Linked DNA regions of Homo sapiens: region 2 is linked to region 1. The links come from fine-mapping of genetic effects on gene expression. A gene starts in region 1. The other region holds a variant in brackets. All regions are shown on one strand. Distances are between the middles of the regions.

Region 1 (8,323 bases):
CTCCAGCCCCCTCTTCTGCACACCCAATAACTCAAATCCCTCTATTAGTTTATTTACGGCACTAAGGCCTTGGAGAGGATTAGAACAAAGTTAGAATGAAATCCGAAACTCCTCTACATTGGCAGGACAAGGAGTGTGGGAGAGGAAGGGAAGACACAGAGTTCTTAGAAGAGAACTTGTTTGGAAAACAAGGAGGAAGGGAAAGGTGTTCCAGACAGAGGAAACCGAGTAGACAAAGGCGTGGAGGTATCAAAAGCAGATGTCAGGCCGGGTGAGGTGGTTCACACCTGTAATCCCAGCACTTTGGGAGGCTGAGGTGGACAGCTCACCTGAGGTCGGGAGTTCAAGACCAGCCTGGCCAACAATGGCAAAACCTCATCTCTACTAAAAATACAAAAATTAGCCAGGCGTGGTGGTACACACCTGTAATCCCAACTACTTGGGAGGCTGAGGCAGGAGAATCACTTGAACCCGGGAGACGGAGGCTGCAGTGAGCCAAGATTGTGCCATTGCACTCCAGCCTGGGCAATAAGAGTGAAACTCCATCTCAGAAAAAAAAAAAAAACAAAAACAAACAGATGTCAGGGCTGGGCGTGGTGGCTCACACTCGCAATCCCAGCGCTTTGGGAGGCTGAGGTGGATGGAAGGCTTAAGCTCAGGAGTTCAAGACCAGCCTGGGCAACATGGCAAAACCCCATCTCTACAAAAAATACAAAAATTAGCTGAGCCTGGTGGTGCACACCTGTAGTCCTAGTTACTTAGGGGGCTGAGGTGGGAGGATCACTTGATCCCAGGAGGTTGAGGCTGTAGTGAGCCATGATTGCACCACTACACTCCAACCTTGGTGACAAAGTGAGACCCTGTCTCAAAAAAAAAAAAAAAAGACAGAGGCAGATGTCCTAGAATAGCGTGGCTGAGGTCAAGGCCGAATGGAGAAGAGAGGTCCTTTGTAGGGGAATGGAGAGCAGGCTCTAAATGTTAAGGGCTTTGAATGCCAGGATAAGTAAGGTTAGACTTTACCCTGATGGTACACAGGAAGTCCTTGGCAGTTTTATGTAAGACAGCAACCCAACCCCATTTGTATTTTACAGACCTGATGATCCCAAAGGATTTGGATTCTAGAAAAAAGACAATCACCAGGCACGGTGGCTCATGCCTGTAATCCTAGCACTTTGGGAGGCTGAGGTGGGTGGATCACTTGAAGTCAGGAGTTTGAGACCAGCCTGGCCAACATGATGAAACCCCGTCTGTAGTAAAAATACAAAAATTAGCCAGGCATAGTGGCACACGCCTGTAATCCCAGCTACTCAGGAGGCTGAGCCAGGAGAATCACTTGAACCCCGCAGGCAGAGGTTGCGGTGAGGCAAGATCGTGCCATTGCACTCCAGGCTGGGCAGCAGAGCAAGACTCTGTCAAAAAAAGAAGGAAGGTAGGAAGGCAGGAAGGAAGGAAAGAAGAAAGGAAGGAAGGAAGGGCGGGGAGAGAAAAAGAAAGAAAGGAGAAGAGAAGAGAAGAAAAGAAAAGAGAAAAAAGACAATCTAGACAGAGGCAGGAGGCCGACAAGTTAAGAACTGAAACAATATTCTCAATGGTAGAGGTTGCCAACCTATGGTCTGGGGGCCAGATTTGTCTGCAAAGTGTGTTTCATTTGGCCCATTCAATATTTCCGAATTTTGGGAATTCGTTTCAAACATTTAAAAGTTGGAAGATTTCTGGATGTCCTGCTTCTCTTTGAATATCATCCAGCCACGCACAGCCCACGATGTCTCCAGTTCCCCTCTTCTCCACCCTCTCTATCACTTTACATGCGACCCCAGTCGCTCATGTCTGCGCCTGTAGGTACTTGCGTTTGCAATCCCTGGCTCCTAAAGCTCTGGAAACAGTCGGGAGTGGCTGGGAGGATTACGCTGGGTTGAGAAAACAGCCTGATCAAAAACTTAGAAGAAATAGGGGCAGTCATAAAAAATGATGAGTTCATGTCCTTTGTAGGGACATGGATGAAGCTGGAAACCATCATTCTCAGCAAACTATCGCAAGGACAAAAAACCAAACACCGCATGTTCTCACTCATAGGTGGGAATTGAACAAAGAGAACACATGGACACAGGAAGGGGAACATCACACACCAGGGACTGTTGTGGGGTGGGGGGAAGGGGGAGGGATAGCATTAGGAGATATACCTAATGCTAAATGACGAGTTAATGGGTGCAGCACACCAACATGGCACACGTATACATACGTAACAAACCTGCATGTTGTGCATATGTACCCTAAAACTTAAAGTATAATAATAATTAAAAAAAAGAATGAAAAAGAAATGCTTTTGAAGCTTGAAGCTAAAAAAACAAAAAAAAAAGAAAGAAATAGGGAAGGCGTCCTATTGGGGCTTTCTCACTAGGGAAAGAGTGAGCTGCAGGGAGGAGAAAGAACAGGGCCTGGAAGGACGAGCTGTCCCTATCTCATCTCTGTCCCCATCCACCCACTTCATCCAGGCCACCAATTTCCGGTTATCAAACAGACAATGCAACATCCCTTACACCTGCTGTACCTCTGCCTAGAATCTCCTTTCTTCCCTTCTATCCGGCGAGCAGTTCCTCCCAGCTGCACTCCTGGACTAGTCACTGCCTATTTGCAGCAGGGATCGCAAAGGCGACCTCAGTTGGATAGGGCAACCACCCAGGCCCAAGTTTATGACCTCTTCCCCAAGAAGACTGTGAGTTCTCTGACGTCTCGCTGGAAATAGGATGCATGGATGGATGGATGGATGGATGGACGGACGGATGGATGGATGGATGGAAGCGCAGGCAGGCAGGCGGACGCATGGATGAATGAAATGCATATCCGAATGCAGAACCTGGATTTGTTTTCCCTCCTTCAAACACACACAGGCTCCGCCCCACTAGCACAGACCGGGACAGTCTGGGGCAGTCTCGTCCCGCAGGGCCCAGAAAGCTGGACCAGGTGACCCTCTCAGACTCCCCCGAGTCCTCTGTAACCTCGTTCTCGCCCCCTCGTGGGCTCTGACCTAGAAAAGGAGTGGGGTGGGTGGGGGGTGGGGGGTGGGAGCCAGCTCGGGAGCCACCGGCGCTAGGACCCAGCGCGGCCGGAAGGGGGTGGGGGCGCCGCGCGGGGAGAATCTGCGCTCCGCGGCGCGCGGCGGGAGGGCGGGCGCGCGGCGGGTGAGCGCGCTTGCGCGAGGGCGCGCGCCGAGCGGGACGGACAAAGGGGCGGGCGGCGGCGCGCGAGCCGGAGGGCGGAGCCGCGGGCCGGGCGGGCAGGTGCGCGCTGGCTGGAGGGCGGAGCCGCGATGCCGCGATGGAGCGCAGCCCGGGCGGGCGCCGGGGCCGGGGCCCGAGCGCCAGGCGGAGCGCGAGCTGGAGCCGCAGCCGGAGCCCGGGCCAGGCCGGGGGCCGGGAGCGCAGGGCCGGGCTGCTCGTAGCGGCGGCGACCGAGCCCCCCAGCGGCTGAGGGGCTTCCAGCGCCCGCCGGTGGCCGGGACCCACTAAAGCCCCCGCAGCCGAGGAGTGCGGGGAGCCCCCTTCCACATCCAGGATCCGGCGAGCCTCGGGGAAGAGGGGGGGCCCTCCCGGATCCGACACCGAGCGACTCCCCTGCGGGGAAAGCGGAGACTTCCTCGGTATTTAGAAGACAGCAAGCCCCCTACGGCACCGCAAGGACTCCCCCTCCTCAGTCTGGGCCCCCGCCCCAAGACCTAGAACGCAGTGCCCCCAGGCCGGGATTGCGAGAACCCCCTCCCAAGATCCGGTCATTACAACTCCACACCTCAAGACAAGAAGACCCAGCTCAGAACGCCCCTAGATCAGGGGATCCCAATTCCCCCCAACTCCGGTACATAGAAATCCCAAATCTAGGCAGCCGGGGACAGCAAGAGACACTCTCACCAGCAAGAAGCCTCGGGGATCCCCCCCCTAAAGCTCCAGGACTTGGGCGACTGAGCCCCTGGCGGCACCGCTTGCACCCCGGTCCATGGTCGTGGCGCCCTGAGCCCCCGGGGCCGGGCAGACGAAGACCGCGACGGCGCCCAGGCCCCCTGCCGCGGCGTCCCCGCGGCCCCAGCCCAGGTAAGCCGGGCCCAGGTGAGGGGCGGCAGGTGAGTGGCCACCGAGGTCCCCATAGCCCTGCAGGTGGGGAAGGAAGTATCGGGTTGCGCGCTCCCCCTTCCCCAGCGTCGCCATGGAGCCGAGGCTGAAGGACGTCTCTTTGTGTCTCGCTTGGAGGAGCCGCCCCCTCCTCCTCTCCCTTCCCCCACCCCACTCCCTAGCCTTGAGGCTCGGGCGCAGCTCCCCGGCCCCACGGAGGAGTGGTGGTGGAGCCCGTTGTGCCATGGAGAGGGGGGAAGAGGGCGGAGAGTCCCCCCCCAAAAGCTGCGAGCCTGGAGGTTGGCCCCCAGGTCCTTGGAGTGTGAATACCCCTCCCCCACGGCCAAGCTGAGCTTCTAGTGAAGTCCCCCCGAGAGGGGAAAATTTGGGGGTGCCCACAGGTGAGGGGGGCTGCCTTATGTGGCCCTGGGTGATGGCTGGGGCTTCGGGTGTGTGTCTTTGTCTGTGAGAGTGCGGGGAAGGGGTGTGTTTGAGCGGATGAATGGGAATCGCATCTTCCCTGTGACTCTGCTGCCCGACCCAGGCCACACTGGCGGTCTTTACCTAAACCATACTTTGTACTCCCTGTGGGACAGGGAGGGAGTAAGTACCCCCCAAAGTGAGGCGCTAGTTTCTGGGGAGGAGAGGTAGCCTAGATGAAGAAGCTATTTCAGGTCAGGGCACCGTTCTGTTCCCATTTGTCCCAGGGACAGCAACCCAAGTCTTTCCCTTCCCCTCCTAACCTGGAGAACACCCAGGTTAAACCAAGGGTTGGCTCAATGTGTCCCAGACAACCAAGGGCCAATTCCAGGGTCTCACTGTGGCTTTCCAGGTGGTACACACGGCCGTACCCCAGCCTGGCCCTCAGTGAGGTCCTGAACCCCAGGCTCTACCGCATATGAGGAAGCCGAGAGACCCTAGGGGACATTGTACCCTGAAATCCTGAATCAGATCCTGAGAAGGGGCTGGACTGCATGGAAAGAACACACTCTGGGCTGCTGGGAGTTCCTCTCATCTCTTCTCTCTGAGCCTTCTGCAGACAAGCAGTGATGCTGGACCCATTTGATAGGTGCACAAACTGAGGCTCGGGAAGGCAGGACCCAGGATACAGCTAGCCCTGCCAGTAGCTCCTTCACTTATTCATTCAACAAACCTGTCGCCAATGTCTGTGATGGACCATGCGCTAGAGTCAGGGTCCTTTTCCCCACTTCATTCCTATCTCCTTTCTTGATGTCTCCTGATCATCAGACCCCTGGGCACGTCCCATTGGGCCTGTTGAAGTGGACCGGGCCAGGTCCAGCTGAGAGATTCTTGACCCTACACCTGAAGCAGCTGATCCCTGTCCTGCTACAGCCTTGGGAGCCCTGAGCCTGGGTGGCTGACTCCTCATCTCCCACCTTCCCAGCACCAAGTGCCCCCACCCCCACCTGCTGCTGGCACTGACCCAAGGGTGAGGATGTGACCAGCTGGAGACGAGGGTAGGGGGCACTTGATGCGGGCAGACCTCTGGCAGCCTCTCCTGCCAATTTCAGGACAGTTGAGGCAGCCACCTTCAGCACAGGCTGTGGGGGAATCAGGTGCCCTGAAGACTGAGTGACCTTGGGCAAGCACGTGGCCCTTCCCAGAGAAAATGACAGAGAGTGAGCCTCTCTGCAGCTTGAAGGGCGGATGGAGATCGAAATTGGGCAGGACAAGCATCCAGGTTTGCTCTACCCATTGCTGAAGGAGTTCATTTCCCCCCAGTGGGGGTTCCCAGAAGCCCAGGGCTTTGTCACACACCCCACAGGCAAGGCAGTGGAACCAGAGGCTGAAGAGCAGAAATTTGAGTCACTGTGTCCAGGGCAAACTGTGAGGAGGCCAGAGGAGGACAAGGAGCAAGACCTCCCCTCCTCACTAACCTGCAGTGGCTCTCCATTGAGTCCAGAATCAAGTCGCTGAGTCCAGATAGTCTCTGGACTGCAGCCTGGCCCTAAACCACCTCTCCTAGCCCATCTCCTCCGTGTCCTCTAATTCTCTGCCTCCGTCACGTGCTCTTCCCCTGACCTGAAAAGCCCCACTCTAGGATGGCTCCGGAGCCGTTTTCTGCCTCCACCTCCCTTTTTGAGCTGACCTGAGCTGGCACGTAGTAGAGAGCTGAATTTGATTGGTTGGTGGTTTGGTGGCTTGGAGGTAGTGGCGTGTGTCTACATGTGCAGTGAGAGTTTGTCTCCACATCTAGACTCAGCTCCAGGAGACGGGAACCAGGTTTGTCTTGTCCATACTGCATCAGCATTGTCTAATTCAGAGCCCAGCGTATGGTAGGGCACGTGCTGTAAAATACAGCCTATAGACGATTTTTGTTGGTCCAATGTATTTTACATGTTTGTCTTTGTTGTGAGTGCTTAAAAAAAGTCGGGGGGAGGCAATTTCACATACAAAAGCTGATTTTTGGATCTTCTTGAAAAATCAGATGATGTGGCAACCTCAGGCCACAGCGGGAGAATGACCACCTTCTTTAGACAGGGCCCTTGCCTTCCAGTCCACCCCCAGGCAGCCGTTCGCTCCCTTAGGTCACCTCCTGGCCCCCGATGCTGGCATCTGGGTTTGCAGGCCCAGAAAAATCTTTTTTTTTTTTTTTTTTTTTTGAGACAGAGTTTCACTCTTGTTGCCCGGGCTGGAGTGTAATGGCGAGATCTCGGCTCACTACAACCTCCAGCCCCTGGGTTCAAGTGATTCTCCTGACTCAGTCTCCTGAGTAGCTGAGATTACAGATGCCCACCACCACATCCAGCTAATTTTTTTTTTTTTTTTTTTTTAGACAGAGTCTCGCTCTGTTGCCCAGGCTGAAGTGTCGTGGCACAATCTCGGCTCGCTGCGACCTCCACCTCCCGGGTTCAAGCAATTCTCTGCCTCAGCCTCCCGAGTAGCTGGGATTACAGGCACCCGCCACCATGCCTGGCTAATTTTTTGTATTTTTAGTAGAGACGGGGTTTCACCATCTTGGCCAGGCTGGTCTTGAACTCCTGACCTCGTGATCCACCCTCCTCGGCCTCCCAAAGTGCTGAGATTACAAGTGTAAGCCACCACACCCGGCCACACCCAACTAATTTTTGTATTTTGGGTAGAGACGAGGTTTCACCATGTTGGCCAGACTGGTCTCGAACACCTGACCTCAGGTGATCCACCTGCCTTGGCCTCCCAAAATGCTGAGATTACAGCCACCACACACAGCCCAAAAAATCTTTGTTCGGTGGGCAACCTTCGTCTGTGTGTGTTCTGCACTCATGGGTGTTCCCTCCCACCCCCATGGTCAAGTTAGAACGTGCACAGAATAGTGTCCACCCAGGGTCTTAAGGGCTATGTGGTGAAGTGAACCTGAACTTCTCCAGCCTGGTTCCACTTTCCACTCTTGATCCCATCTTGCACTCTTACCCCTGAACTAGTGACATCCAGCAACCAAAAACCTGTTTTCTCTGTCCCACTTGCCCCATGTGTCCCAGGGACAGCAAACCCGAGTCCTTCCCTTCCCCTCCTGACCTGGTTCTAGGTGCAGGTCTTGCTCAGGACTCTTGGGGCAGGGCTACTGTCCAGGGTTCCGTTCACCCCTCTGTCCACAGAAGAACTGGATGAAAGCTTCTTGTAGCTGTAAGTTTCTTCCTTCTAACTTTCTAGGACTAAGTCCAAGCTGGTCTAAGTTTTGGTCAGGCAGGAGAGCTGGGGGCCTAATTATAGGAGTAACTAAAAAATATTGGTCAGGTGCGGTGGCTCACACCTGTAATCCCACCACTTTGGGAGGCTGAGACAGGTGGATCATTTGAGGTCAGGAGTTTGCGACCAGCCTGGCCAACATGGTGAAACCCTGTCTCTACTAAAAATACAAAAAATTAGCCAGGTGCGGTGGCATATTCCTGTAATCCCTGCTACTAGGGAGGCTGAGGCAGGAGAATTGGTTGAACCCAGGTGACAGAGGTTGCAGTGAGCCGAGATTGTGCCACTGCACTCCAGCCTGGGTGACAGACTGAGAGTCCGTCTCAAAAAAAAAGAAACAAAAGTTGACATTTCCTGAACAGAAACGAAACTGATGGGCATTGTGGAGTAGCTGGGCCAGGGGCCAGCAGCAGGCCCCTGTCACTGGGCACAGCTCTAGAAGGGAGTGCACCCTTTTTCTGAACACAGGTCTCCAGCAACCTGAGGTCAAAGCAGATACCAGAGCACCATGGAGGAGAGCTCAGGCTCTGGATTCT
Region 2 (8,283 bases), 23 kb after region 1:
AGTTGCTGGAGAGGAAGTTCCTGTTGGAACAGGGGCAAGGAGGCCAAGTACAGTGGCTCAGGCCTGTAATCCCAGCACTTTGGGAGGCCGAGGCAGGAGGACTGTTTGAGCCCAGGAGTTCAAGACCAGCCTGGGCAACAAGGTGAGACCCCATCTCTACAAAAAATAAAATATGGGCCGGATGCGGTGGCTCACGCCTATAACCCCAGCACTTTGGGAGGCTGAGGCGGGCAGATCACCTGAGGTCGGGAGTTCGAGACCAGCCTGACCAACATGGAGAAACCCTGTCTCTACTAAAAATACAAAAATTAGGCATGGTGGCACATGCCTGTAATTGCAGCTACTCCAGAGGCTGAGGCAAAAGAATCGCTTGAACCCAGAAGGCAGAGGTTGCGGCGAGCCAAGATTGCACCAGGCAACAAGAGGGAAACTCTGTCTCAAAATAAAATAAATAAAATACGAAAAAAAATTATCTGGGCGTGGTGGCACGTGCCTGTGGCCCCACCTTCTCAGGAGGCTGAGGTGGGAGGATTGCTTGAACCCAGGAGCTGGAGGCTTCAGTGAGCCATGGGGGCACCACTGCACTCCAGCCTGGGCAACAGAGCGAGACCCTGTTTAAAAAAAATTTAATTTAATTTAAAAAACGACAGGAGGCTGGGTGCGGTGGTTCACACCTGTAATCCCAGCACTTTGGAGGATTGCTTGAGGTCAGGAATTCAAGACCAGCCTGGGCAACATGGTGAAACCCCATCTCTACAAAAAATACAAAAATTAGCCAGGTGTGGTGGCGTACACCTTGTGGTCCCAGCTACTCAGGAGGCTGAGATGGGAAGATTGCCAGAGTCCGGGATACAGAAGTTGCAGTGAACTGAGATCACGCCACTGCACTCCAGCCTGGGTGACAGAGCGATACCCTGTCTTAAAAAAAAAAAAAAAACATACTGACAGGGGAGATGAGCTGGTTCATGAATGGAGGGAGGCAGGAGGCTGGGAAGACAGGGATGGGAGCAGGCTGCAGGGCGGGGAGGGGAGGGTTCCTTCCTCCCCAGCCAGCTGAGAGGACGGTGCAGATGGAGCTCCGTTTGGGGCTGGGTGGGAGGCCAGGAAGTTCTCTCCTGATGTTCCTCCTCTCCGTGTGAAGTGGGAGGCTGGGTCGTGCCGAGAGTGAAGGGGAAGGCAGAGGAGGAGGAGAGGCTTGGGGCCTGGAAGGGAGCCGCTGGGCTGCGAGAGGATGCGGGGCTCATGGAGTGCTCACCCCCTCCCAGCCTCCAGCAATGCCCACCCGCCCGCCCACCCTTGCTCAGCCAGAGAGAAAGCCGGTGATGATGACGAGAACAACACAGCAAGCCTGGGCACCTATGGAGCACTTACTGCATGCCACATGCCAGGGCTTCACGCCTGTTAACTTACTTAACCCTCGCAAGAACGCATCGGGAGAAGGCACTGTTGTTGTTGTTGTTGTCGTTATTATTGTTATTATTATTATTATTATTATATTTAGATAGGGTCTCACTCTGTCATCCAGGCTGGAGTGCAGTGAAGTGATCATAGCTCACTGCAGCCTCGAATTCCTGGGTTCAAGCGATCCTTCTGCTTCAGCCTCCTGAGTAGCTGGGACCACAGGTGTGCACCACCACACCCAGCTAACTTTTTTTTTTTTTTTTTTTTTGTGGAGACAGGGTCTTGCTCAGGCCGGTCTCACACTCCTGGCCTCAAGCAATCCTCTCACCTTGGCCTCCCAGATTGCTGGGATCACAGACGTGAGCTACCTTGAGTGGCCCAACGCACTATTATTATATCCTTTGTATAGATGAGGAAACTGAGGCACAGAGAGAGGAAGTAACTTGCCCAAGGACATCCAGCTAGCAAGTGACAGAGTTGGGACTCAGACCCAGGCTGTCTGGCTCTACATCTGTGCCTTCTCCCAGAGGGAGCTGTGGTCATTGTTCTTCAGGGTGCAGGGGTGCTTAGGAGCAGGCTAGGGACACTGGAGTGACATGTCTGGGATTAGAGGGAGAAGGGGCCAGGTGCGGTGGCTCACGCCTGTAATCCCAGCACTTTGGGAAGCCCAGGCGATGGATCACCTGAGGTCAAGAGTTCGAGATCAGCCTGGCCAACATGGTGAAACCCCATCTCTACTAAACATGCAAAAATTAGCCAGATATGGTGGCGCACACCTGTAATCCCAGCTACTTGGGAGGCTGAGGTGGGAGAATTGTTTGAACCCAAGAGGCGGAGGTTGCAAAAAGCCAAGATCACACCACTGCACTCCAGCCCAGGTGACAAGAGAGAAACTCCGTCTCAAAAAAAAGGGAAAAAAGGGAGAAGGGAGTGCAGGGAGGGTAGAGGGAGGCTGCACCCGGAAGCAGTGCTCAGGGGCTGGAGGCTGGTGGCAGCTTCTAAAGGAGGCAGCCCTGGCCTCTCTTGCCAGTGCACACACAGATACATACTCATGTGTGCCTGCGCCTGGGAAAGGCTCATCCCCCATAGTCTACCTCTCTCCATTTACAGATGAGAAATGAATGCCCAGAGTGGTTGCCTGGAAGACCGGGGTTGGGGGGATGGGGTTTTAGAAAGGGGCAAAAGGAAACTTTGGGGTAATGGATGTGTTCGTGGTCTCGACGGCAGGGATGTATACATATGTCAGAATCATCACACTGTACACTTCAAATATGTGTAGTTTTTTGAACACCAAATATACCTCAATAAAACTAGAAAAATGACATGAGATAAGGGGAAATAAAGAAATGAAGGCCACGGATGGAGAGTTAGTTCACTGTCACCCACATGACAAGTCAGGTCTTAGCCCAAGTGGTGGCTCACGCTGTAGTCCCAGCACTTTGGGAGGCTAAGGTGGAAGGATCGCTTGATCTCAGGAGTTCGAGACCAGCCTGGAAAACATAGCAAGACCCCATCTCTCCAAAAAATTTAAACATCAGCCAGATGTGGTGGCGCATGCTTGCAGTCCCAGCTACTCAGGAGGCTGAGGCAGGAGGATCCCTTGAGCCCAGGAGTTCGAGGCTGCAGTGAGCTATGATCATCCTACTGCCCTTCAGCCTGGGCAACAGAGCAAGACCCTGTCTCAATACAAATACAGTTTTTTTTTTGAGACGGAGTCTTGTTCTGTCGCCCAGGCTGGAATGCAGTGGCACGATCTCTGCTCACTGCAGCCTCCACCTCCAGGGTTCAAGAAGTTCTCCTACCTCAGCCTCCCAAGTAGCTGGGATTACAGGCGTGCATCACCATGCCCAACTAATTTTTGTATTTTTAGTAGAGACAGGGTTCCGCCACATTGACCAGTCTGGTCTCGAACTCCTGACCTCAAGTGATCCGCCCACTCAGCCTCCCAAAGTGCTGGGATTACAGTTGTGAGCCACCATGCCCAGCCTAAATACAATTTTTGAAAAAGTCAGGTTGGCCAGGCGCAGTGTTCATTAGTCGGGTGGTGAGGTCGTCTGCAGTGGGGGAGGCACTGCCAGGCTGTGCTGATGTGTGGCCATGTGTATGGTGGGATGGTGTGGCCACATCTATACCATCCTGCCAGTTTGGCCTGAGACCACGTGGCCAAGGTATGTGATGATGCAATCATGGCCCTCAGACCTCTTCCCCACCCCCTACCTTATGGACAGCCATACCACTTTCGATCGTAATATACAACTGATGTGATCACTGTGTCTACTGCCCTTCTCCCCCTGGGGTGTAAGCCCCATGGTGGCAGGGAATCCTAGGTGTTTGTTCCATGCTGTGTCCTCCAGGCTTTGGAGAGCCCTGGGGAACAGCAGGTGCTTCGTCAGTACTTGTGAATAAGCTGGGCACAGTGGCTCATGCTGGTAATCCTAGTGCTTTGGGAGGCTGAGGTGGAAGGATCACTTGAGGCCAGGAGTTCTAGACCAGCCTGGGCAACATAAAGAGATGCCAACTCTACAAAAAAAAAATTAAAAATTAGGCATGATAGGTGCAGCAAACTACCATGGCACACGTTTACCTATGTAACAAGCCTGCACATCCTGCACATGTACCCCAGAACTAAAAATTAAAATAAATAAATAAAAATTAGCCAGGTGTGGTGGCACATGCCTGTAATCCAATCTACTCAGGAGGCTGAGATGGGAGGATAGCTTAAGCCTGGGAGGTCGAGGCTGCAGTGAGCTGTGATTGCGCCACTGCACTCCAGCCTGGGTGACAGAGCAAGACCCTGTCTCAGAAATAAAAATAACAACAAGCCGGGTGCAGTAGCTCATGCCTGTAATCCCAGCACTTTGGGAGGGCCAGGCAGAGGGATCACTTGAATCCAGGATTTCGAGACCAGCCTGGGCCACATAGTGGGACCCCCCTCTCTACAATCCAAATAAAACCAACGCTTCTGAATGGGAGTACCCGTGTGAACTCGGTATCTGGCTGTGTCTGTGTGACATAAACAGGGGCCTTGCCTGACACTGTGTGTGGGTGGCAGCATGAGGCAGAGGGGCTGGTGCCACCAAGCGCAGGGTCTGGCAGTGACTGGTCTTCGGGGAGCTGACTCAGGCCTGGCCCCTGAGGCTTTGGGGAAGGCGACGCGACCAAGATGCTTGTCGCCCCCTTGTGGTTATCTTGGGCCTGGCATCCGGGCCCATCCTCAAGTTTTCTGGGTTCTGGGGAGGGCAGAGGGGCTGGAGGAGGGGACCCTTGCCTGATGTCACACTTCATGCTCACCACCCCTACCCAACAGGGAGAAGATGAGCGTGGGCTGCCCAGAGCCTGAGCCGCCCCGCTCCCTGACCTGCTGTGGGCCGGGGACTGCCCCTGGGCCTGGTGCCGGTGTGCCCCTTCTCACTGAAGACATGCAGGCCCTGACTCTCCGCACACTGGCCGCCAGCGACGTCACCAAGCACTACGAACTAGTCCGGGAGCTGGGCAAAGGCACCTATGGGAAGGTTGA[C/T]CTGGTGGTCTACAAGGGCACAGGTGAACAAGTGCAGGGTGGCAGGGCTGAGAGGTTGGGGTGGGGCAGGGCTGGGAGGTCAGGGTTGGGGGACATGACCTTGCAGCTGGGCCGGGGCTCTCTGGTGCTCTGTGGAAGCCAGGAGGCAGGGTCAGGGGCCAGATGTAGAGGATGAGGCCTGAGGCAGCCCAGGGGGAAAGAGACTGGGCAGATGGGGCAAGGGAGGAATCCGGGGCAGAGTGGCCAGGGTACAGGATGGGCTGCTGTGGGGCCATCTGGGGTGACTTTGAGACAGCCAAGGGGCTGTGCCAGGAGTGTCTGGGGAGGGCAGGGCTGCCGGCTGTGTCTGAGTATCACCAGCGTCTCAGGGATGTCTGGCCCCAGGAAGGTGGATGGAGAGTGAGGGTGGTTCCTCAGGAACAGGGTGCCACACTTAATGGGTGGTGGAAGGACCTGTGAGGTCAATATTGCAATCACCATCTCTCAGGTGAGGACAGGGAGACCTAGGCCAATTCAGCCACATAGCCAATGCCCTGCAGCTACAGAGGCTGTGAACCAAAACGAGACCCCAGGAGTCATCTCCAGAGCCTTGTCGCTTAGTCACTGAGCTTGATACCTCCCCCACACTGTAGGTCACAGCCGTGCCACCCAGCCAGCCAGGGGCTGGGGCTGTGTGAGCTCCCACAGCTGCACGCGCTTGGGTCCAGGGGCTTTGTGCTAACTGAGGGCAGCAGGAGGAGCACCTAACATGGGGTCACCTGAGCTTTGTTACTTGCTTGCTGTGTGACCTTGAGCAAGTGACTTCACCTCTCTGTGCTTCAGAGTCCTTCTCTGTAAAATAGGGTAACATTAGTGCACAACCCATACAATCATAATGAAGTGTGAGTTGTGAATGTGCAGTGCTGAAGGCAGGGCCTGCGATGTGTAAATGCTCCGTGGACACACATGTGTGCTCCACCCAGCTATGTACCAGATGGGCACAGATGCTTGCCCAGGCACAGAGTTGTGGACACATGCCTTGCAGTGTCTCATTTCTTATTCATTCATCCATTTAGCAAGACAGGAAGCTTAGGGAGACCCGTTCTAGATGGGGTAGGCTGACAAGATAAATAAGCATATGGCGGGCAGGACAAAATGAGAGAGGTGGAGGGCATCACAGGCCCCCTCGCCCCCTCCTCTTGGAGAGCTGCAGAGTGGGTGTAGAAGGCTCAGGTTGACCCTGCCTGCATGGCCTTGGGCAAGTCCTTTCCTCTCTCTGGGTCTGTTCCCATCCGTGAGATGAGGACAGTCATGCCTGCTGGGGACCCTGTTGCACCAGGGTCCAGAGACAGGCATGGGTGCATCCAGTGCGGAGGCACTGGGAGAGGGGGCTTCAACCCTGTTGCTGTTGCTCCCATCAGGCACAAAAATGGCACTGAAGTTTGTGAACAAGAGCAAAACCAAGCTGAAGAACTTCCTACGGGAGGTGAGCATCACCAACAGCCTCTCCTCCAGCCCCTTCATCATCAAGGTCTTTGACGTGGTCTTTGAGACAGAGGACTGCTACGTCTTTGCCCAGGAGTACGCACCTGCTGGGGACCTGTTTGACATCATCCCTCCCCAGGTACTCGGGATGGTGGCATAGGGTGGGGAAAGGGTCTTCAGGGTCCCAGAGTGTGAGAGTGGGAGTGGAGTCAGACCATTTAATTAACAAGTATTTACTGGGTGCCTGCTGTATGTCAGTTACCATTTGGGGAGGTGGGGATGTGCAGTAAGGAAGACAAAAGTCCCTGTTCTAGTGGGAAACTGACACTCCACAGCGGGCCAGATAATAACAGATGGAGATGAGTGCCTAAAAGGAGACAGTGAGAATGATGGGATGAAGTCACTGGGCCCTCCCCTGGGGCTACACAAGAGGAGAGGTGTCAGATCCACCTGGGAAGGGGCCCTCAGAGGAAGCGACCCTGGAACCGGGACGGTGGGGGAGGGTTCCAGGCACTAGCTTTAAATCTGCTCTGCCACTTGCTGGCTGAGTGATGAGACCTTCGGAGCAGGTCCTCCTTCTTTGCTGAGCACCTACTACATGCCAGAATCTGGAGACACAGATGCACGGACACAGCAGGGAACAGGACGGGAAGCTCAGGGAGCCCCGTTCTAGTTGGGGAAGACCGACGAGATAAGTATCTAGCAGGCAGGGCAAAATGACAGCAGGTGGAGGGCGCCGCGGACCCCCTCATCAACCTCCTGGAGAGCCGCGTGTCCCTCCTGGAGCCCCGATGTCCCCATAGGAGAAGCAGGCATGGTAGCCACTATGAGGATTGGATGAGACAGCGGGGGAAAGGGCGCTCAGCAGCATCCGGGCCGCGTCTGCGCGGTCGCCCCAGTTACTGGGGACAGGGTGGGAGGCGAAAACCGCCTTGCTAGAGAGGGAGCTGGAGGGGAGGGCGGCGGGGCGGGCGCTGGAGAGCTGGAAACAGCGCGGCTTCCCCCGGCCGCCCGCAGGTGGGGCTCCCTGAGGACACGGTGAAGCGCTGTGTGCAGCAGCTGGGCCTGGCGCTGGACTTCATGCACGGGCGGCAGCTGGTGCACCGCGACATCAAGCCCGAGAACGTGCTGCTGTTCGACCGCGAGTGCCGCCGCGTAAAGCTGGCCGACTTCGGCATGACGCGCCGCGTGGGCTGCCGCGTCAAGCGCGTGAGCGGCACCATCCCTTACACGGCGCCTGAGGTGTGCCAGGCGGGCCGCGCCGACGGGCTGGCGGTGGACACGGGCGTGGACGTGTGGGCCTTCGGCGTGCTCATCTTCTGCGTGCTCACCGGCAACTTCCCGTGGGAGGCGGCGTCGGGCGCCGACGCCTTCTTCGAGGAGTTCGTGCGCTGGCAGCGGGGCCGCCTGCCGGGGCTGCCTTCGCAGTGGCGCCGCTTCACCGAGCCCGCGCTGCGCATGTTCCAGCGCTTACTGGCCCTGGAGCCCGAGCGCCGCGGCCCAGCCAAGGAGGTGTTCCGCTTCCTCAAGCACGAGCTCACGTCCGAGCTGCGCCGCCGGCCCTCGCACCGCGCGCGCAAGCCCCCCGGGGACCGCCCGCCCGCCGCCGGGCCACTGCGCCTCGAGGCGCCTGGGCCGCTCAAGCGGACGGTGCTGACCGAGAGCGGCAGCGGCTCCCGGCCCGCGCCCCCCGCCGTCGGGTCGGTGCCCTTGCCCGTGCCGGTGCCGGTGCCAGTGCCCGTGCCGGTGCCTGTGCCCGAGCCCGGCCTAGCTCCCCAGGGGCCCCCCGGCCGGACCGACGGCCGCGCGGACAAGAGCAAAGGGCAGGTGGTGCTGGCCACGGCCATCGAGATCTGCGTCTGAGTCGCCTCCGCCGCCCTCGGACCCGGGAGCAGCCCGGG

The links. PIP is the estimated chance that this variant, and not a neighbour inherited with it, causes the effect.
Region 2: its variant is fine-mapped to the expression of SBK1 in whole blood (TOPMed, PIP 0.98).

What each region holds. Positions count from the first base shown.
Region 1 is chr16:28,289,219-28,297,541 of GRCh38, forward strand. SBK1 (SH3 domain binding kinase 1) reads left to right here and starts at 3,307. Exons shown (of 4, transcript NM_001024401.3): 1 at 3,307-4,082. LOC124903670 (a long non-coding RNA gene) reads right to left here and starts at 2,847. Exons shown (of 2, transcript XR_007065033.1): 1 at 2,549-2,847. RefSeq lists silencers at 2,799-2,970, 3,178-3,407.
Region 2 is chr16:28,312,677-28,320,959 of GRCh38, forward strand. SBK1 (SH3 domain binding kinase 1) reads left to right here. Exons shown (of 4, transcript NM_001024401.3): 2 at 4,709-4,941; 3 at 6,319-6,521; 4 at 7,400-8,283. The coding sequence starts at 4,716. The coding sequence ends at 8,245. Among named protein-coding and RNA genes, the nearest start is that of SBK1, 24 kb to the left of the region's middle. The variant C/T (reference allele first, on the strand shown) is at 4,919.